Linked DNA regions of Homo sapiens. The protein of the gene in region 1 interacts with the protein of each later gene in a pairwise test. Each region holds a gene or a part of one and is shown on either strand. Other genes may lie near its edges. The genes, in order: BUB1B-PAK6 and RHOV.

Region 1 (7,964 bases):
AACTGAACTTATTTTTAAAATACAATGTCTTACAGGTATCTTCTCAACCTGTCCCATGGGACTTTTATATCAACCTCAAGTTAAAGGAACGTTTAAATGAAGATTTTGATCATTTTTGCAGCTGTTATCAATATCAAGATGGCTGTATTGTTTGGCACCAATATATAAACTGCTTCACCCTTCAGGTCTGTAATACTAAAAACATAATTTAAAGTCCTGAAGTAGAGAGATTTGTGCTCCATTTAGCAAAGGAATTTAGTACAAAATTCCTGTCAATCTTCTAGAAATAGACCAATTCAAGTATAAGTTAGAAGCATTGATAATTTTCTCGTTATTTTGACCAAAGATCTCTTTGGTATTTTTTTAACTTTTTTTGGTCCGTTGTCAAGCATAAATAAAAGTAGAATTGTACAATGAACTCCCATGAACTAGTCATCTATGATAATCTTAGCTCATGGTCACTCTTGTTTTAGCTATACTACCCCCACTGGATAGTTTTTAAAACCCAGACACAATATGTCATTTTACTCTTCGGTTTGTTCTTAAGAAGGTTTGCTATGGATTTTGATGATAATATGAATTCTCAAAAATGGTTGGAATGAGGGTATTTTAAATCCATTTATTAAGTACCTATTTTGGGCCAGGCTCATGCTTGATGCCCTTCATCATTATGTCATTAAATCCTTACAAACAATCTTATGGGAGATGGCAGTGTTATTAAAACTGGGACATAGACTCAGTCTACAGAGGTGCCTACGTTCCAGTAGAGAACAAGGAAGACTACAAACCATCAGTTTTCAAGGTATTGAGTATAACTACGATCTGCCAAACTTGAGAAATAGTGAGTTTTCTGTCCTTCAATTTCCAGGATCTTCTCCAACACAGTGAATATATTACCCATGAAATAACAGTGTTGATTATTTATAACCTTTTGACAATAGTGGAGATGCTACACAAAGCAGAAATAGTCCATGGTGACTTGAGTCCAAGGTGTCTGATTCTCAGAAACAGGTTGGTCCTTTTCATTCTTATAATTCTGCCAGCTGTCTCTTAAAACATGGATAGTTGCCACTTTTTTTTTTCTTTTTTGAGGCGAGGGTCTCACTCTGTCACCTAGGTTGGAGTACAGTGGCATGATCTTGGCTCACTGCAGCCTCCATCTCCCAGGTTCAAACGATTCTCCCATCTTAACCTTGCTAGTAGCTGGGACCACAGGCGCGCACCACCACACCTGGCTAATTTTTTGTATTTTTTGGTAGAGATGAGGTTTCACCATGTTGCCCAGGCTGGTCTCAAACTCCTGGCCTCAAGTGATCTGCCCACCTCAGCCTCCCAAAGTGCTGGGATTATAGGCGTGAGCCACTGCACCCGGCCAAGTTGCCAATTTTTAAAGCCTTTTGATAAATGCCATATCGAGGAACATATTATGTTAAGAGAGTATTTACCTAAAAGTCAAAAATCATTAAGAATAGTTTAAAATAATTCAAAGAAATAAACACATTGAGGAAATAGATTAAATCAGATAAAAGAATTAATCACTGAGTATTGTGATGATATATGTCAAGATGAGATATAAAATATGAATATTTTGAGGAATATAAAGTGGATTGTTTAGTCATTCTTTGAGTGGGACCAGTGCCACTCTAGCGAGGATGCCAGCAAAATCAAGGCACTACTCAGTTTCATAGACCAAAGCTTAAGTCAGGCCTAACTGACCTGTTAGCCAAGAGAAGTGGGTAAAACCAGAGTTCAAATACAAACTATGCCAAGGAATGGGGTTTAGTGTTCAAATTAAACCCAGTGTGTCCATCAGGTTCAAGGGGTGAGCACAGAGCAGGAAATAATAAATGAATACTAAGGACTGAGAAAATATAGATCACGTTCAGGCATTAACTAGGCAAAAACAGTCCAACATTTTTGCTTTGTGAAAAGTACTAGAGGACTACTATATTCTTTTAGTGATCATTGGTGTTATAGTATTTGAGTAAAAGCAGCCTGGTTTAAAGATGCTGTGTCTGCCCAACCCTGTGTCTTGGGTGAGGTGTTAACTTTGTTTCTGAGGCCACTGGTATACACTAATAGCTGGACTTACTCTTTACATTTCTTCTGAATACTTAATCTATCAGAAGAGATTGAATTAGACTCTAAATTATAGTTAACGTGGAAATTAAAAGAACCCTCAATGTGTTCCTGTGATTGTAACCAAAAGAACCAGAGAATCCCACCTTCTCCCCTGAGATAGCAGAGTCAAAGGCTTTCCCAGACATAATGTAGCAGCATTTCTCATCCAGGGCACCATAGGTATTTTGGGTGAGACAATTCTTTGTGCAGGTGTGTTCCAAGCAATGCAGGATGTTTTATATTCCTATTCCCCCCCACCCACCCAATTAAGTGCAAGTAACAATCCCCTAAGCCGTTGTGACCACCAAAAATCCCCCCAAATTTCCAAGTATGAGAACCCCTGGTATATTTTCACTCTACTTAACATTAAAATGACAGTGCTGAAATTCCCAGGGCTATGGAAATTGGAAGCAGAGGTTTTTTCTAAGCCTTTTAGAATTGGCCATTTGTGGTCTAATGAAGTACGATAACCCTTCTCTCAGCCACTAGAGGCTCTAGGAAAGTCCATAGTATTAAAGAGGCATTGCTTTTTACTTTGTCACTGCTTATCAAATTTAATCAGAAATTTCACATAGATTCATAAGGAATTAAAAGCCAGAAAGGGGCCGAGCACAGTGGCTCATGCCTATAATCAATCCCAGCACTTTTGGAGGCTGAGGCGGGCAGATCACCTGAGGTTGGGAGTTCAAGACCAGCCTGACCAACATGGAGAAACCCCATCCTACTAAAAATACAAAATTAGCCAGGTATGGTGGTGCATGCCTGTAATCCCAGCTACTTGGGAGGCTGAGGAAGGAGAATTGCTTGAACTCAGGAGGCAGAGGTTGTGGTGAACTGAGATCGCACCATTGTACTCCAGTCTGGGCAACAAGAGCAAAATTCTGTCTCAAAAAAAAAGCCAGAGGCCGGGCGCAGTAGCTCACGCCTGTAATCCCAGCATTTTGGGAGGCCGAGGCGGGCGGATCACGAGGTCAGGAGATCAAGACCATCCTGGCTAACACAGTGAAACCCTGTCTCTACTAAAAATACAACAAGATAGCCAGCCGTGGTGGCAGGTGCCTGTAGTCCCAGCTACTCAGGAGGCTGAGGCAGGAGAATGGCGTGAACCCGGGAGGCAGAGCTTGCAGTGAGCCAAGATCATGCCACTGCACTCCAGCCTGGGTGACAGAGCGAGACTCCATCTCAAAACAAAACAACAACAAAAGCCAGAAAGGGCTGGATGCAGTGGTTCACATCTGCAATCCCAGCACTTTGGGAGGCAGAGGCAGGAGGATCTCTTGAGGCCAGGAGTTCAAGACCAGCCTGGTCAACATAGCAAGACCCTGTCTCTACAAAAATAAAATAAAAGCCAGAAAGAACCTTTTGAAATTGCTTAGTTTAGTTGCTTACTTTAGTTTCTGCATATTTTTTGTGAGGAAAATGAGATCCAAAAAAATGGAATGTCCTACCCAAAGTAACAGTGAGTGAGTAGCTGATTAGAGGGCTAGGACACCTTCATGCATGCTTCTTTTTATTAATCTATGAGACATTTTTTCCCTATGCCTCCAAAGTTATATAAATATTTTACAATTACACTGGGCATGGTGACTCACATCTGTAATCCCAGCACTTTGGGAGACCAAGGCAGAGGATCACTTGAGCCTAGGAGTTCAAGACCAGTCTGGGCAATATAATGAGACCTCATCTCTACAAAAAATTAAGAAATTAGCCAGGCATGGTGGCACACACCAGTAGTCCCAGCTACTCGGGAGGCTGAGATGGGAGGATCGCTTGAACCTAGGAGGCAGAGACTGCACTGAGCTGAGATCGCACCACTGTACTCCAGCCTCAGTGACAAGAGTGTAGACCTTGTCTAAGAAACCAAACAAAACACACACATGCACACACTTTACATATATATATAAAATACATATGTATATTTTATATATATCAGAATCCACGATCCCTATAACTATATATATACTATATATATATATATATATATATATTTTTTTTTTTTTTTAATTATAGTATAGTTTTATGGTGGCCAAAAAAGGTTGGCTCTTGTGCCAAGGAAAAATGAGAGCAATTATCAATTTTAAAGTAAAATACATAGATCATTCTGTGCCGTGGAGGTATGTAATTGGAGTAGTTAAAGACTGTATTTAGGAATATTGCACCAATATCAGGAGTTTGAGGGAATTAATTGAGAAAAACAGACAAAAGGAACACATGAAAACCCACTCTTTTCATTTATAAACAGTTCCTATGTCCCCTTGGAGAATAGCATTATTGCATAGGATAGATAAACCCAAGGAAAACAAAATTAATTGATAATTAATTAGTATTATAAAGATTTTTTTAGTAAATAACTGGAATTACAAGTAAGAGTAAGATAAAATATGGTGTTTTACAAGAAATTTTACAATACAGATAGGACTTTATAAAACAGACTTGCATTGTTTTCCATTAAACTCTGGAAGGAAGAATCTAAACAATACTTGGAAAGCCTATCTGGAATAGTAAACAAGAAAGGCTATGACACCTATAAAATTTTAATTTCCTCCATCATAATTCCTGTCAGTGTATAAATCATTGCAATTGTATGTGTTAATGTGTACAGTACAGGGAAGAAGCCTGTGCTCTGCTTCCATACTTACTTTATATAATATGGAAGCTTGATAAATGTTTAATGGTGGCCATGCACCGTGATTGAAATATACTTTGTGTCACCAAAGTGGTGACATTCCTTCCGCATTGGGTGGACACTGCCACTGCTCTGTCTTACAGGTGCATTTTCAAAATTAACCACTGGAGGGAGTTGTTGGCATAGCTAAGATGTACCCAAGGTACCTTTTTTTTTTAAAGACCAGCTATGCAGCTTCTTTCATGGCCTATTTTTATTATCTCCTTCTCTTAAATCTGGGCTCAGAATCCACGATCCCTATGATTGTAACAAGAACAATCAAGCTTTGAAGATAGTGGACTTTTCCTACAGTGTTGACCTTAGGGTGCAGCTGGATGTTTTTACCCTCAGCGGCTTTCGGACTGTACAGATCCTGGAAGGACAAAAGATCCTGGCTAACTGTTCTTCTCCCTACCAGGTAAGTGTAAAACAAGCCTGAGCAAATATGGAGAGGGTTTCTTAATCTCTTTATTATCTAGATAAGCTATAAAAGCTACTGTTTACTGATACCGACTCCTAGAATAGATGACCTAGTTTTCAAATATCACCAAGTCAAGTAAAATGTAACATTTTTGTGTTACAGCATTGAAGAATATACACATACATGTGCAAACACATGACTAACTCTGTAACCGAGTGCCAGGGCCACTCCTACTGCCTACCACCCATGTAATCTTTTATAAGTCATTTTCTGTGATCTTCTCTGTAAAATAGGGATAACAGTCTCTGCTATGTGTTTATCAGAATTGTTATGAGGAGTAAATGAAGTAATGTATATAAAAAGAACATTAGCACAAATGTAAAGTCTTTTGTATGGTGGCATTATATGCAGAAATTCCTTCTAACTCAGCTTTAGACATAAGACATTTGCTGATTGAATATGTAGCACAAACCTGAACTAATCATGTGGACCCCATTTAGATCACAGCTGGAGTTCATGCAAACTCAGTAGGTCTACAAATTTGAATGTGATAGTCCAAATATTTCATCTTTTGTTCTTAAGGATAATTCCTAGAATTGGCTCTATTGATCACTTCTTTGGAGAGCTTCTCCCTTTACTGTAAGGGTGAGGAACAGTCTACTAAAATGTATGTCATAAAATAAACTTAGTTAAGCACTGTAATACCTTTCAACTTCCTACCGAAATAAGCTGCCATGGTAGAGGCAGAGAATTATTTTAGCTGATGGTGCTTTTTGTGATTTCAGGTAGACCTGTTTGGTATAGCAGATTTAGCACATTTACTATTGTTCAAGGAACACCTACAGGTCTTCTGGGATGGGTCCTTCTGGAAACTTAGCCAAAATATTTCTGAGTAAGTATTGATGAATGTCAGGGTCTCTGCCTGTCCCAATAATTTTCTGTTTCTCTTGGGTGCTATCTCTGCTTTGGCAGCCTTAGTTTTTTAATCCAAATGCCATGGTTCCAGTAGTTTCAGCCAGTTTTCATTAGAGTATCAGCAGAGCAGCTAGTGCAGGAAAAAGGAACTGCTTACTAAAAATAAGATTCAAAACTATTCAGACTTCAGGACATCATTCTGAATCTAGCTGTATCTTCCAGACTACAGCTATAGTATGGAAGCTTCCCTGTTTAGATATGTGAAAAGAAGCATTTCATGAGAATAATTTTCTAACTAATTGGTGTTAGCCTTAAATTCCTTTTTCTTTATTTATTTATTTTTTGAGACGGAGTCTCGCTCTGTTGCCCAGGCTGGAGTGCAGTGGCATGATCTCGGCTCACTGCAACCTCTGCCTCCCAGGTTCAAGTGATTCTCCTGCTTCAGCCTCCTGAGTAGCTGGGATTACAGGCGTGCGCCACCATGCCTGGCTCATTTTTGTATTTTTAGTAGAGATGCGGTTTCACTACGTTGGCCAGGCTGATCTCGAACTCCTGACCTTGTGATCCGCCCGCCTCGGCCTCCCAAAGTGCTAGGATTACAGGTGTGAGCCACCGTGTCTGGCCTAAATTCCTTTTTAATAGCAATTATTACCAAAAGTTAATAAGCATCCTTTGAAAAGACTTACATTTCTAAACTATATGCTAATTTTAGGCTATTTTTTATTTAATAAGTGGATAGAACCAAACCAGATAACTGACTCTCCTGGAGAAGAAGTAAGTGGTCTCTTAATAAGCACTGCTTGGTCTCAGAACCTTAGTACTCCCTCAAGCCTGCTCATAAAACTTACTAAGTCAGCCGGGCATGGTGGCTCACACCTGTAATCACAGCACTTTGGGAGGCCGAGGCAGATTACCTGAGGTCAGGAGTTTGAGAGCAGCCTGGGCAACATGGCGAAACCTTGTCTCTACTCAAAATACAAGAAAATTAGCTGGGTGTGGTGGCACATGCCTGTAATCCTAGCTACTTGGGAAGCTGAGGCACGGGAATCACTTGAACCTGGGAGGCAGAGGTTGCAGTGAGCTGAGATCGCGCCACTGCACTCCACCCAGGGCAACAGAGTGAGACTCCGTCTCAAAAAAAACTAAGTATCTACGTTCCACTTTAGCTTATCTTAGCAAATAAGTTCCCAGCCTGTCACCTATTGTTATATTCTTTGGTTAAAAAAAAAAATGAGTGTTGAAGATTTAATGCCCCTTCTCTATTTTCATCTTTGAATAATTGAATTGTACTTTTCTCTTCATTTAATTCAGAACTTGGCCAGTGTTGTCTCTTACATGAACTTTTAAAAATAGGCTTGAAATACAATGTAAGACATATAGGATGGATATAGGCATGTCCACTTGGCTATGGTCCAGGCAGGTCTGGCTAACACAAGCAGAAACAAGTGGGGTCAGTTGGGGTTTCCTAACAGCCCTGCCTTATCTAATAAGGGAAGTTTCTCTGATCAAAAGAAAATAATAAGAAGCAAAGGTACAAACATATTAAGCAGTAGTTAGTTTAGTCAAGCTTACGATTATCAGAGAATTGTAAAGAAGATCCACTACTGGGGTAGGAGAAAGGAGCTGTAGCCTTTTTAATGACCTAGACTCTAGGAAAGTTAGAGGAAATAAAATTCCTTTTTCTTCTATTTGTAGAAGAAAAGTGCTATGTCTTAGTACACAGAGGAAATTTATAGATTTAGATGAGAGATCTTCTTTCCCTTTATGTGCATTGTATCTTGGCTTTTCCCACTATGGTAGCCCTTTTTTGTAGTTCTTCCCTGGGCTTTCAAAGGACTATTT
Region 2 (15,042 bases), 660 kb from region 1:
ATAAAAATAAGAGAAAATAAGGAAGTTAGTAGGGGAGTTTTTTAGGTAAAGGTTTTAGGTGGCAACTCTTGCAGGCATTTAAAAAGCTAGGGCTTGGGTGCAAGATCTGAGCGGAAAGAGAGGTTGGAAGGGGGCAGTAGCGGTGGGATCAGCTGGATGGCGAGGTGGAGAGAAATGAAGGGAGAAGCGGAGGCCAAGTCTGGGTGCGAGGGAGCAGGGAAGACAGGACAGAAGTCCAGGAGCCAGCCTGAGCCCAAGGGTGGTCTAGAGGGTGTGGGGACTGAGGAAATGGACTTGAAGGGTTGACCAGCAGCACCATGGGGCAAACTCAGCCCAGCTGGGTAAATTTGCCACAAACTCCCTCCAAGGACACAAGCACATGGAAATAGAGAAAAATCTGTGTTGCTGGGTGTCGTGGCTCACCCCTATAATCCCAGGACTTTGGGAGGCTGAGGCAGGAGGATTGCTTGAGCCCAGGAGTTTGAGAACAACCTGGGAAACATAGGGTGACCCAGTATCTACAAAAAAATTAAAAAGTTAGACAGGTGTGGTAGCATGCACCTGTGGTGCCACATACTGAGGAAGCTGAAGCAGGAGGATCACTTGAGCTTGGGAGGTCGAGGCTACAGTGAGCCCTGATCGCACAACTGTACTCCAGCCTGGGTGACACAGCAAGACTCTGTCTCCACAAAGAAAATAAATAAAATGCATAAAATAAAGAAAAAGGAAGAGAAAAACCTATGGTGGCCCAATTTCCACTGAAAGCTCAGAAAGTGGGTAGTCAAGTTATTGTATTATTATTATTGTATCATATAACTATATTATAATATATAATTATATATTAAGTTATATATAATATATAATTATTATCAGTATGTTGGTAAGCAAGTGTTAAATATAAAATTCTTTTTCTTGAATTCTGTTTTTATTTCAAAGCTTTCTGACCTGCCCATCTCAGTCTCTGAGCTCATCCTAAGCAGCAGGCCTGATTTTGGGGGTCTTGGACTGGAGTATGCAGAAGAAACAGAAAAAGACAATGAGAGTGCATTCACTCAAAAACAACCTCTCTCTGGATGGAGCCCTTGGAATAACTTTTCCCCACCACTGGTGTTCTTTCGTTTTTGTTTTTAATTTTTTTGAGATGGAGTCTCGCTCTGTCTCCTAGGCTGGAGTGCAGTGGCGTGATCTCAGCTCACTGTAACCTCCGCCTCCCAGGTTCAAGCAATTCTCCCTACATCAGCTGCCGGAGTAGCTGGGATTACAGGTGCATGCAACCATGCCCAGCTAATTTTTGTGTTTTTAGTAGAGACAGGGTTTCACCATGTTGGCCAGGCTGCTCTTGAACTCCTGACTTCAGGTGATCTGCCTGCCTCAGCCTCCCAAAGTGCTGGGATTACAGACGTGAGCCACCGTGCCTGGCCGTGGTGTTCTTTTGTTAATCCCTTATTTGCCAGCGGAATAATTGTGGTGGTAGGGTAGGGGGTTGGTTTCTTTTGGTTTATTCTTGTCCAGGTTTTGCTATAGGCATTCCAGTGTTTTCAGTAAACTTAAGATATGGAATTAACAAAAATACCTAATAAAACTTGACAACACTGGCTGGGCACAGTGGCTCATGCCTGTAATCCCAGCACTTTGGGAGGCCGAGGCAGGTGGATCACCTGAGGTCAGCAGTTCGAGACCAGCCTGATCAACATGGTGAAACCTCATCTCTACTAAAAATACAAAAAGTAGCTGGGCGTGGTGGTCCACTCCTGTAGTCCTAGCTACTTGGGAGGCTGAGGCAGGAGAATCGCTTGAACTAGGAGGCAGAGGTTGTAGTGAGCCAAGATCTTGCCACTGCACTGTGGCCTGGCCGACAGAGCCAGACTCTATCTTAAAAAAAAAAAAAACTTGACCACGCCTGAGGGTGGACCTGTGGTTGGCTTGTTCATTCTGGAACAGACTGCCACTTACTAGTTTCTTTCATCTTGGGGCAGGTCCCCTATACTCACTGATAAAATGGGAATAGACACACGCACGCACACACACACACACAGCCACACCTTCTCAGACACACCCCTCTCCTAAGCCATGTCACTTGGTTCTTATGAGACAGGGCAGACTGCAGCACTTTTACAAGTCTAAAGCCATATACAGCTGTGATGGACATTTTGGAGGCAAGATATTACTGCCGTGATTCAATGTCAGGGCTATGGTTGAGTTTTTTAGTTTTTGGTTTTTTTTAAGTAAACTATTTTTTTTTTGCCTTTTTTTGCGGTGGGGGGATAGGGGGTGCAGAATCTCACTCTGTCACACAGGCTGGAGTGCAGTGGCTCACTGCAGCCTCAACCTCACAGGCTCAGGTGATCCTCCCACCTCAGCCTCCTGAGTAGCTGGGACTTACAGGTGCATGCCACCATGCCCCATTAATTTTTTTTTTTTTTTTTGAGACTGGGTTTTGCCATGTTGTCCAGGCTGGTCTTGAAATCCTGGGTTCAAGCAATCCTCCTGCCTTGGCCTCTCAAAGTGCTGAGATTGAAGGAATGAGCCACCAGGCCCGGCATGTCTCACTTATTTATGTATTTAATTATTTATTTATATTGGTATAGACTTGTATATTTCCTGCCCCAGTCCTATAATCTGCTATTTCTCCATGGAGAATGTCAGAGCCAAGTTTTAATCCTAGCAAATGTGTGTCTAGCTGGAAGTTGGGGCAGAAGATCTGGCAGGCAGCAGGAATAAGACCCAGCCTACCCTTAGGAGGGGAGTTTCCCAGCAGTAGCAGCCAGAATTGCAAACTTCCCCAGCAAGTCCTTCTCTGAGAAACAGGTGACTCATCAGCACCTTAAGTTGTTTCCTCCCTCCCCCTCTTGCTGACAAAACTGCCCCTAAACCAGCTCAGACAGAGGGACCTAGGTTGGAAAGTGTCCCCACCTAAGCGGCCAGAAAATAATGACCTGTCTCAGGCCACATCAGGGCTTTTACCTGTGCCCAAGCAGACATCTCCCCCAATTTGTGTATTTACACCCCTCCTGCCTGCAGAAAGGATGAAACAGGATTACCCTCAAATTTACAGCTATAATTAAACTATTATTAAAATCCAGGTAAAAAAACAAGAGCACTGCAAAGAAGAGCGTGTGTGTGTGTGTGTGTGTGTGTGTGTGTGTGTGTGTGTGTGCGCGCGTGTGTAGTAATTCTGTCCCAGACACCTGGGCTGGGGCAGCTTCCCTGGGATCCCTGAATCACAGATTGCTAGCACCAGAAAGGCTTTCAGAGATAAACATGCTTCACCTGTCATTTTATAGGACTGAGACAGATGAAGTGATTTGGTAGGCATCACACAGCTAGTGAGCTGAAGAACTGGGAACACTGGGACAGGTCTCCTGATGTCCAGGTCTTTTAAAATGCCACTCCTGGCCGGGCGCGGTGGCTCACGCCTGTAATCCCAGCACTTTGGGAGGCCGAGGCGGGTGGATCATGAGGTCAGGAGATCGAGACCATCCTGGCTAACAAGGTGAATCCCCGTCTCTACTAAAAATACAAAAAAAAAATTAGCCGGGCGCGGTGGCGGGCGCCTGTAGTCCCAGCTACTCGGGAGGCTGAGGCAGGAGAATGGCGTGAACCCGGGAAGCGGAGCTTGCAGTGAGCCGAGATTGCGTCACTGCAGTCCGCAGTCCGGCCTGGGTGACAGAGCGAGACTCCGTCTCAAAAAAAAAAAAAAAAAAAAAATGCCACTCCTTTTCCAGGAGAGCAAATACAACAGCTTTTGGGCTTTCTAGAGGAATACAAAGGCAGGACAACAGGTAAGGCCTCTTTCACTTGCTAGATGAATAAACTTATGTGGATGTGTCTGAGAAGTTTTTGAGACTTGGGGCTACAATTAGGGATTATTAGCATCCCCAGACATTCAGAGGTATGGCATGTAGGATGAAGACATTGGCATGTAGAAGTGGTTACAGGGGCTCCTACGATTTCCCCATCCCCATAGTCGAGATTTTAATGATTAAGTCATCTTTCTAGCTGTAGTCCTCTCCTTTGGGCTCAAAAAGAGAAAACAAGAAATCTCAGCACTTTGGGAGGCCAAGGAAGGTGGATTGCTTAAGCTCAGGAGTTCAAGACCAGCCAGGCCAAAATGGTGAAACCCTGTCTCTACCAAAAATATAAAAATTAGCCAGGCATGGTGTCATGCACCTGTAGTCCCAGCTACTTGGGAGGCTGAGGCAGGAGAATCGCTTGAACCTGGGAGGTGAAGGTTGCAGTGAGCTGAGGTTGAATCTGTTGATCTGGGCCACAGAGCGAGACCCTGGCAAAAAAAAAAAAAAGAAAAAGAAAAGAAAAATCAGGGAACCTGTCACTTTTTCTAAGAGATGTAAAGATTTGGTTTGGATTTATGGCTTTTTTTTTTTAGACTGAGTCTCGCTCTATCACCCAGGCTGGAGTGCAGTGGCGCGATCTCGGCTCATTTGCAACCTCTGCCTCCCAGGTTCAAGCAATTCTTGTGCCTCAGCCTCCCAAGTAGCTGGGATTACAGGCGCCACCACCACGCCCGGCTAATTTTTGTATTTTTAGTAGAGACGGGGTTTCACCATGTTGGCCAGGCTGGTCTCGAACTCCTGACCTCAAGTGATCCACCCACCTCAGCCTCCCAAAGTGCTGGGATTACAGGTGTGAGCCACCGCACCTGGACGGATTTATGGCTTTTATACTACCAGCTCTTGGAGAAATAGAATTATCTCTTTTAATATTCACTGCCCCTCCCCCTCCCAACATTCTCCTTTCCCAAAACTCGTGAATGGCTGACTCCCTGAAGGTGACGGTGTTTTCTGTGATCTTTGCATAGGCTGAGATGAAAGGGTCAGAGATCAGAGAAAGGATTCTGGGCCTGGTGTCACTTGGTGTGGTTGCAATAAAGAGACAAAATTAGCATCAGGCTACTCTTCACTTGCTCTCCAGGTGACCTTCCCAGGGCTACCTGGGAGATATTGTCTCAGTCTGCAAACTCCTTCTAGGGCAAGGGCAGTGGGTGGCCCAGAACAGCATCTGCAGATAGGTAATTATTATGTGCTTTTGATGATGATGAGATAATATTAGGTATTTGGAGATTTATAAAATATTCAAATGGAAATTGTCCTTGAAGATCCTCCCCAGCTAGCTTCTCAGCACCCTGAGTTCCTTTAGCTGAGGGGAGTGAAAGTGTTCACAGCTTGCCTTCAGGCTGAGTCTAGAGAAAGCTCTCCTCTGAAAAGGAGTACAGTACATTCCTGCCTGCTGTATTCACACTTGTGTTTCTCTGCCTCTCTCATGATCTGTATACAGCTGAGCCTTGAACAACATGGGTGTGAACTGTACAGGTCCATTTTAGGCAGAATTTTTTCAATAAAAGTTACACTGAGGGCCGTGTGTGGTGGGTCATGCCTTTAATCCCAGCACTTTGGGAGGCTGAGGCCTGAGGATCACTTGAAGCCAGGAGTTGAAGACCAGCCTGGGCAAAAAAGCAAGACTGTCTCTACAAAAAAAAAAAATTAAAAAAATGTAGCCTGGCCTGGGGGTGCATGCCTGTAATCCCAGCTACTTGGAAGGCTGGGGCGGGATTGCTTGAGGCCAGGAGTTTGGACGCTGCAGTGAGCTATGCTCGCGTCATTGCACTCCAGACTGTGCAACAGATCAAGACCACATCTCTAAAAATAGATAAAAGTTATACCAAGTGTGCCTGCCTTTCCTGCCTCCCCTTCCACCTTCTCCACCTCTGCCACCCCTGACGCAGCAAGACCAACTCCTTTTCCTCCTTCTCCTCAGCCTACCCAACTGGAGACCACAAGGGTGCAGACCTTTACGATGATTCTAACTTTCTGATACAGGTCAGAAGAAAAAAGTTTGAAAATATGATAAGCCTCCTGGGCGTGGTGGCTCATACCTGTAATCCTAGCACTTTGGGAGGCCGAGGCAGATGGATCACCTGAGGTCAAGAGTTCAAGACCAGCCTGGCCAACATGGTGAAACCTCGTCTCCACTAAAAATACAAAAATTAGCTGGGATTACAGGTGTGAGCCACCTCGCCCGGCCTTTTTTATTTTTTTATTTTTATTTTTTTTTTGAGATGGCGTCTTGCTGCGTCTCCCAGATTGGAGTACAGTGGCGCAATCTCGGCCCACTCAAGCTCCGCCTCCTGGGTTCACGCCATTCTCCTGCCTCAGCCTCCCGAGTAGCTGGGACTACAGGCGCCCACCACCATGCCCGGCTAATTTTCTGTATTTTTAGTAGAGACGGGGTTTCACCGTGTTAGCCAGGATGGTCTGGATCTCCCGACCTCGTGATGTGATCTGCCCGCCTCAGCCTCCCAAAATGCTGGGATTACAGGTGTGAGCCACTGCGCCCAGCCTATTTTTTATTTATTTATTTATTTATTTTTGAGACAAAGTCTGGCTCTGTTGCCCAGGCTGGAGTGCAATGGCATGATCTCAGCTCACTGCAACCTCCACCTCCCAGGTTCAAGCCATCCTCCCACCTCAGCCTCCGAGTAGCTGGGATTACAGATGCACACCACCATGCTTGGCTACTTTTTTTGGGGGGTTTTTTGTTTTTGTTTTTTAAGAGAGAGTCTTGCTCTGTCACCCAGGCTGGAGTGGAGTGGCCCAATCTTGGCTCACTGCAACCTCCACCTGCCAGGTCCAAGTGATTCTCCTGCCTCAGCCTCCTGAGTAGCTAGGATTACTGGCACCCGCCACCACACCTGGCTAATTTTTTGTATTTTTAATAGAGACGGGGTTTCACCATGTTGGCCAGGCTGGTCTCGAACTCCTGACCTCAGGTGATCCACCCACCTCGGCCTCCCAAAGTGCTGGGATTACAGGCGTGAGCCACGGAGCCCAGCAACAGCAGGCTATTAATAGTTAAATTTTGGGGTAGTCAAAAGTTATATAGGGATTTTCGGCTGACTGCACAGGGTTTCTCGCCCATAATTCCCGCTTTGTTCAGGGGTCAACAGGTTTTTTGTTTGTTTGTTTGTTTTTAGGATCTGTCACACATGCTGAAGTGCAATGGCACTATTATAGCTCACTGTAACCTTGAACTCCTGGGGTCAAGTGATCCTCCTGGCTTAGCCTCCCAGAACGCTGGAATTACAGGCATGAGCCACTGCTCTCAGCCTCAATATTTAAAAAAGTAATTCTTTCATTAATAAAATTATCCCAACTTTTTAATACTCATGCAAACATATGCATAGAGTTGTTTCTTGTAAGTTGAACAAGGTTTAATTTGCACACTTGTTTAACCTGAACATACTGTATTATATGTTCTGCAACTTGCTTCTTCCTCCTAACAATAAATCATGGATGTCTATCTCTTCTTGGTATTCTCATTTGACGATTCTTTGTCCTTGTACCTGCGTGACTCTTGGAGCTCCAGCTTTCTGCCTGCCTTTCCTCCTCCCGGGGTTTTCCTCCTCCTCGCCTGGCCTCGCAGGGTGCCTGGCCGCGGGAGATCTTCGCCGATGGGTGGGGTCCGGGGCCGCCTGAAACATGTAGATGAGATGGGCGGGGCCCTACACAAACCCGCTGGTAGCGCTGGGCCGACTCGCCCAGCCTGGACCCATTCAGTCAGAGGCAGCCAGCGGGACCTGCTTCACCGAGCGCAGCGAAGCCGAGACCCGGGCTGGCCCCTCTGCTGCCCCCGGAGCGGGCCATGCCGCCGCGGGAGCTGAGCGAGGCCGAGCCGCCCCCGCTCCGGGCCCCGACCCCTCCCCCGCGGCGGCGTAGCGCGCCCCCAGAGCTGGGCATCAAGTGCGTGCTGGTGGGCGACGGCGCCGTGGGCAAGAGCAGCCTCATCGTCAGCTACACCTGCAATGGGTACCCCGCGCGCTACCGGCCCACTGCGCTGGACACCTTCTCTGGTACGTACGTTCAATCGCCCGTGCGGCCGCGTGGCTGCGGCGGGGCTGTGCACCGGGGAGCTGGGGCGGGCGTCTCGGCGGGAGGGCGCAGAGGACCCCGGGGAGGAGACTGGAGCAGGCCCCGAGGTGGCGCTGGTGCGGCCCAGGACGCTCTTCCTAACTCAGGCTCTCCCCGCCCCGCCCCTGCAGTGCAAGTCCTGGTGGATGGAGCTCCGGTGCGCATTGAGCTCTGGGACACAGCGGGACAGGTGAGAAGCTGGGCGCGGCCTCTACTGGTCTGCGGGGAGATGGGCTGGAGGCTGGGAGGACCCCATATGGAGCAAATGGAGAAAGCCTTGGGCTCTTGGAGTCTCAGGTTTCCAGCCCCGGGTGAGAAATGGATTCCATGTGTCGGGGGGCTAATCCTTACCACCTGGCCTTCCCACCCCAGGAGGATTTTGACCGACTTCGTTCCCTTTGCTACCCGGATACCGATGTCTTCCTGGCGTGCTTCAGCGTGGTGCAGCCCAGCTCCTTTCAAAACATCACAGAGAAATGGCTGCCCGAGATCCGCACGCACAACCCCCAGGCGCCTGTGCTGCTGGTGGGCACCCAGGCCGACCTGAGGGACGATGTCAACGTACTAATTCAGCTGGACCAGGGGGGCCGGGAGGGCCCCGTGCCCCAACCCCAGGCTCAGGGTCTGGCCGAGAAGATCCGAGCCTGCTGCTACCTTGAGTGCTCAGCCTTGACGCAGAAGAACTTGAAGGAAGTATTTGACTCGGCTATTCTCAGTGCCATTGAGCACAAAGCCCGGCTGGAGAAGAAACTGAATGCCAAAGGTGTGCGCACCCTCTCCCGCTGCCGCTGGAAGAAGTTCTTCTGCTTCGTTTGAGCAGCTATGGCTGCATAGCAAGTAGTAGGCAGGAGGCCAAAGACTTCTGAGACCTGGGGCACCCGGGCCTTTGCGGCAGCTACTGGCAGGGCCTGGCCACCTCATAGGACTCAGTTCCCTTCTGAACACTCGGGGGACATGGGCCTCTAACTGCCCACTCTGATATGCCTGGGTGAGCCTAGGAGGGAAGGCTCTGATTTGGATTTCTCCAGTCAAAGCTCACAGAAAAAAACCTGGCACTTTGATTTTCATGGGATGGTCCTAACAGGGTCAGTCACCTCCGAGCAGTTTGGGAACCCAGTTTCTTGTCCTGGGCCCTCAGGTCAGCCTGGCTGAATTAGGACCCTTCCTTGGCACAGGGGTGAGAAAGAGCTTGGGGAACGCTTGGCATTATGGAGGGCTGGAAGGGGCTCAACCCCGATTTGGAGAGAAGTTTGGGATGGAGTGGGCGAGAGATTGAGAGAGCGAGCAGGAAAAGAGGTCTTGGAGCCTGGGACTGATGGTGGATAAGGCCTGGAAAGAAGATGACGAGGAGGAGGAGAGAGGGAAGTGGGGTGGATGAGGAGCAGGCTGACACCTGGGCTGCCCTCAATCCCCAAGGCCAGGGAGGGCGGGGCTGGCCCCTGGGAAGAACTGGGTCTCTGGGCTCCCTAGGCACTGCCCAAACTGGCTGAGCCAGGAGTGGGGCAGGAAGTGAGAGTCAAGGCCCAGCAAAAGGAGGGGGAGGAGCTGCAAATTAGAACCTGAAGGAGGACCGGGTTGGGGATCATCCCTTTCCTCAAGGTCACACAGCCTAGAAGCTAGAGCAGTGCAGAGTCTGCAAATAAAACCTTAAGTCTGTGAAGGCGTGCGTTGTCTCTGTCATTTCCTGGAGCCCACTCCTCCCTCAGAACCCTCCTCAAGGCCTAACTGCCTGGCTAGAGACAGATTGGGGACCAAAGGACTGAGGCTAGATTGAAAGGTGGGGGCTGGACTGGGGGTGGGGGCAGTGTAATGGGAACTGGACTGTGGGGGTAGGTGTGGAGCTCCCCGCTTGGGGCTCAGCTGGTTCCCAGGAGAGCTAGCGTGGGAAGCGGCCTGGAAACGGGTTTCCCCAGGTGTCAGCGCCAGAGCTGGTTTCCCATGACCTCACCTGGTGGGTGGAGCCCCTCCCCTCCACCCCTCCTTTCTAGAGCACCATGCTCAGCACTGGAGCTCAAGGTCAGTCCCCAGCCTTCTAACTTTTCTGCTCTGTTCCTTCTGGCAGTTCACAGGGCCCTGGGGCTCAGGTTAGGGGACCATCCCCCCCTCCGACCTCTATTCACAGCCTGAACATAAAGGGAACCCATACAGCCTAAACCTCAATCACTGGCCAAAGTTCTTAGACTTGGGTTGGACCCAGTCTTCAGCCTTGGCACCTAAGGAGCTAGTGAAGGTCAGGGTGCTGCTTGTGAACAATTTAAATAGAGGTTTATCCCCAAGTATCCTGTGCAAGAGCGAGTTCATTGGGAGAGGACTTGGAGAGGAGCAGGGATCTGGAGAACATTCCCTCATGTTGGAGCTTGAAGGGACTTTGAAGGACACCCAGGGAGAAAATGAAACAAAACAAAACTTACTTTACCATAAGGAGACTGAGGACCAGACAGAAAAGGTAATAGCTTAAATGATATGTATCACCCAGTGACTGTAAGAGCACTTTGCAAACTCTAGAGTTGGATACAGGGGTATGTGTTACTCTGGGAGAGGAATTTCTTTCTTTCTTTTTCTTTTGAGGTAGAGTCTCGCTCTTTCACCCAGGCTGGAGTGCAGTGGCGTGATCTTGGCTCAGTGCAACCTCTGCCTCTTGGGTTCAAGCGAGTCTCCTCCTTCAGCCTCCTGAGTAGCTGGGATTACAGGTGTGCGCCACCATGCCTGGCTCATTTTTGTATTTTTAGTAGAGATGGGGTTTCACCATGTTGGTCAGGCTGGTCTCGAACTCCTGACCTTGTGATCTGCCTGCCTCAGCCTCCCAAAGTTCTGGGATTACAGGTGTGAGCCACTGGGCTCAGCTGGGAGAGGAATTTCTGAGGCACACCTGGCACACCTGCTAGGCAGCTGCTGGGTCAGATGAGCACTCATGCCCTGGCCCAGCCCACCTCTGAGCCCATCTCCCTCTGCAGGAAGCTACAGCTGTGTGTGTGTGTCTGTGTGTGTGTGTGTGTGTATGTCTGTCTGTCTGTCTGTCTCTGTCTGTGTCTGTGTGTGTGAAAGAGCATGGCTGAGGGACAGAAATCCCAGCCAAGTGAAACTTCAGATAATCCCCAAGTTTAGTTTTAGCCAAGACTGTCCACTTCCTGCCCCACCAGGGCCTGTCCCCAGAGCTCCAGCCAACTGGAGCTCCTTCTGTTCCCTTTACCCTTCAGGTGGAGGTGCTGAGGGTCTCACACCCCAGCAGCATGGCCTGTTGTTACCTCAACCCAGCCTGACACACTCCCCTCTGGGGCAGAAACCTGGGTTCAAGTTCAGACTCTGACACCAACCATGACCTTAGGCAAATAATTTCCCTTCTCTATGCCTCAGTCTTCATTTGAAAAATGAAGGACTCAGGACTCAGACTGGGTTTGAGGTTCTTAAACTTGTTCTGAGGGGCCTTGGACGTGCCTTGGGGTGGGGATCATCCCCCACAAGGGGGTTATCCTTGTACCCGCCCCCACCTCCAACTTCTTCCCTAATTCTCTCTTGTGGTACTAGTATATCCATGTCACCCAAATTGAAACCTCGGTCACCATGCCTCCTCTCTTGCTGGGTCTCCAAGTCTGGTCAGGACCTCTGTCACCCACACCCCAAGGTCCCTGCCACTGCAGCTCCCCACTCCAATCTGTCCCGTGCTGCTGTGTTCACTCTGGCATCCCCCAACTCAAGGCTCAAGACTGTTACTGGCTCTCACTGTTGATGATGAACTTCCAGCTCCTCATTTCAGCATTCAAGGCCCTCTCAAATCTGACAGCACCCTGGACCAGGCCAGCTCGCTCTGGTGATCCCCAGCTATTTCCGACTTCCTGACTCCCAGTCTTGGCTTGTGCCAGATCCCCTAGTTTGGAAAGAGCTCCCTGTCACCTCCCAGATGCCCCATTTCTCCTCATGATAACCAGCTTTCAATACCTCCCTCCTCCAGAACAGATGCTTACCTGTATCAGTGTCTTCACTGCTCCCTTGGCACACTGAGGACACTGGGCGTTCTGCGACTGACTCAGCCTGCATCTTCCCAGCTAAATGAAGAGAGAGAGAGAGCCACGTTTAAGTTCCTTTTGCTCCCACAAGGTCTGGGGCTCAGGCAATGTTTGCTGCTGACCCTGAAATGCTTAGGAATAAAAAGCCAGCCAGTGAGCCCTGGAGAGGCTGGGAGGATTAAGTTTAGCTCCAGATTTGGAGCTTGAAGACTGAGGCCTAATGTCAACAGCTTGCTGGAAAGGACCTCTAAGGCTCTGGCCCCAAGCCTGTGCAGGACAAGAGGGATTCGCTTCTGCTTCCGAATCCACTGGTTCTCTTTGGTTCTGTCTCTTTCTCTAGAATATGGTACCTACTTTTCTGGGGTAGTTTTTTTGTTTTTATCTCTCTGTCTGTTTCCTTGGCCTCTTTTCCCTTTTCTCTGCTCTTTTAAATTATATTTAAAGGAATATTTATTATATGAATTGGATAAAATTATATGTTTCTTACATATACATTCTTACATATGTCCTTATCAATATAAATTGCTTTTAATGTCTGTGTAACCCTTAGTTGATTTTTTTCAATTTTTTCTTTCTTTCTGTTTTTTTTTTTTTTTTTTTTTGAGACGGAGTCTCGCTCTGTGGCCCAGGCTGGAGTGCAGTGGCGCCATCTCGGCTCACTGCAAGCTCCACCTCCCGGGTTCACGCCATTCTCCTGCCTCAGCCTCCCGAGTAGCTGGGACTACAGGTGCCCACCACCACGCCTGGCTAATTTTTTGTATTTTTAGTAGAGACGGGGTTTCACCATGTTAGCCAGGATGGTCTTGATCTCCCGATCTCGTGATCTGCCCACCTCAGCCTCCCTAAGTGCTGGGATTACAGGCATGAGCCACTGCACCCAGCTCTCTTTTTTTTTTGGAGATGGAGTCTCACTCTGTCACCCAGGCTGGAGTACAGTGGCACAATCTTGGCTCACTGCAGCCTCCGCCTCCTGGGTTCAAGCAATTCTCCTGCCTCAGCCTCCCAAGTACCTTGGATTACAGGCATCCACCACCACATCCAGCTAATTTTTTTTTTTTTTTTTTGAGACAGAGTCTCACTCTGTCGCCCAGGCTGGAGTACAGTGGCATGATCTCGGCTCACTGCAACCTCCGCCTCCCAGGTTCAAGTGAGTCTCCTACCTCAGCCTCCCAAGTAGCTGGGATTACAGGCGTGCACCACCAGGCCCAGCTCATTTTTGTATTTTTAGTAGAGACAGAGTTTCACCACGTTGGCCAGGCTGATCTCGAACTCCTGACCTCAAGTGATCCACCCACTTCACCTTCCCAAAGTGCTGGGATTACAGGTGTGAGCAATGGCACCCAGCCGTTTTCCATTTTTTTGAGGCAGGGTCTTGCACTGTCATCCAGGCTAGAGTGCAGTGGTGTGATCATGGCTCACTGCAGCCTTGAACTCCTAGGCTCAAGCAATGCTTCTGTCTCAGTCTCCCAAGTAGCTAGAACTATAGATGTGCACTACCATTAGGTACACACCTAATTCAACAATTTTTTTTTTGTAGGGATGGGGTGTAGTTATGTTGTTCAGATTAGTCTCTAATTCCTGAGCTCAGGTGATCCTTCTGCTTTGGCCTCCCAAATTGCTGGGATTACAGGTGTGAGCCACCTCACCTGGCTAGATTTTTTAAAAATAATGTCTTTTTTTCCATAATAAATACTTATAAAAATTAGAAAATCCAAAGATTTAGAAGATTAAAAAATCTTAAAAAGTATTCTAGGCCGGGTGCAGTGGCTTATGCCTGTAATCCCAGCACTTTGGGAGGCCGAGGCAGGCAGATCACGAGGTCAGGAGATCGAGACCAGCCTGGCCAACATGGTGAAACCTCGTCTTTACTGAAAATACAAAAATTAGCTGGGCATGGTGGCGTGTGCCTGTTATCCCAGCTACTTGGGAGGCTGAGGCAGGAGAATCGCTTGAACCCAGGAGGCGGAGGTTGCAGTGAGCCGAGGTCACGCCACTGCACTCCAGCCTGGCTACAGAGCAAGACTGCCTCAAAGAAAAAAAAAAGGTATTCTAAAGTCTTAACTCCCAAAGACAATCAATAATAATATTTGGGTGTAATTCCTTCCAATCTTTTCTTCTAAGCATCTTTTTTTTTTTTTTTTGAGACAGTCTTGCTCTGTCACCCAGGCTGGTGTGCAATGGCGCGATCTCAGCTCACCGCAACCTCTGCCTCCCTGGTTCACGTGATTCTCCTGCCTCAGCCTCTTGAGTACCTGGGACTACAGGCATGCGGCACCATGTCCAGCTAATTTTTGTATTTTTAGTAGAGATGGGGATTCACCATGTTGGGCAGACTGGTCTCGAACTCCTGACCTCAGATGATCCACCCGTCTCGGCCTCCCAAAGTGCTGGGATTACAGGTGTAGGCCATCGCTCCTGGCCCTATGCATATTTCTTTACACACTTTTTGTGATTATGCTGTGTAGACAATTTTCTTTAATTTAAAAACTTAACTGTCTTTTCATGTTATAAACTGTGACCATGAGGCTGTAACTGTATGTGTATGTTTCCTTACTGTTCCACTCTGACCTGAATACCTTTAAGTAGATCCCCATCTGGGGGCATGTAGGTTATTTACCTTTAAGCTTTTTTTTCTCTATTATAAATGACACTACATCTACAACTGATTGTTTTATCCACCATGGCTCATTGACTATCTACAGAAAAACAGTTCTTCATCTTTGGCTTGGAGACTGGGTCTCCATATAATCCTGAGTGGAACTGATGAGGATGTTTGGGTTTCTATGTCTATGACTCTGTGTGGGGGTCTCTTTCTGTTGGAATATGAGTAGCAGATTGTGGGGTGTTCAATAAATACCAAATGCTGACAAGGTATGTATATATTTGTGTTCATGTACCTTTCCCTGTGTCCCTGGTTTTGCTCTTGTATATTTAAAGTGGGTGTTGTCTTTGTGGAAAAACTCTAAATACAGAAATTCCATATATGTGCAAGTCTGTGTATCTACATCTATAAATACAGTGTGTACCTTTGCGCAAGATGTGTATATGCCTGTGTATCCATGTCACACGTGTCATTAGAAATGTGTATTATAAGGCCAAGCATGGTGGCTCAC

What was found.
Region 2: the proteins of BUB1B-PAK6 (region 1) and RHOV interact in binary tests that used the Homo sapiens proteins (3 or more experiments, as listed by UniProt).

The regions. Positions count from the first base shown.
Region 1 is NC_000015.10:40,212,464-40,220,427, forward strand, and holds the start of BUB1B-PAK6 (serine/threonine-protein kinase PAK 6), read left to right. Parts: upstream 1-4,964; 5' UTR 4,965-5,032; coding exon of another isoform or gene 5,033-5,204; intron 5,205-5,992; coding exon of another isoform or gene 5,993-6,099; intron 6,100-7,964. Other genes in the region: BUB1B (mitotic checkpoint serine/threonine-protein kinase BUB1 beta), read left to right, coding at 36-185, 869-1,011, 5,033-5,204, 5,993-6,099. UniProt on the Homo sapiens protein: Serine/threonine protein kinase that plays a role in the regulation of gene transcription. The kinase activity is induced by various effectors including AR or MAP2K6/MAPKK6.
Region 2 is NC_000015.10:40,866,757-40,881,798, reverse strand, and holds RHOV (rho-related GTP-binding protein RhoV), read left to right. Parts: upstream 1-7,564; 5' UTR 7,565-7,659; coding exon 7,660-7,867; intron 7,868-7,875; exon of another isoform or gene 7,876-8,056; coding exon 8,057-8,115; intron 8,116-8,297; coding exon 8,298-8,741; 3' UTR 8,742-9,585; downstream 9,586-15,042. UniProt on the Homo sapiens protein: Plays a role in the control of the actin cytoskeleton via activation of the JNK pathway.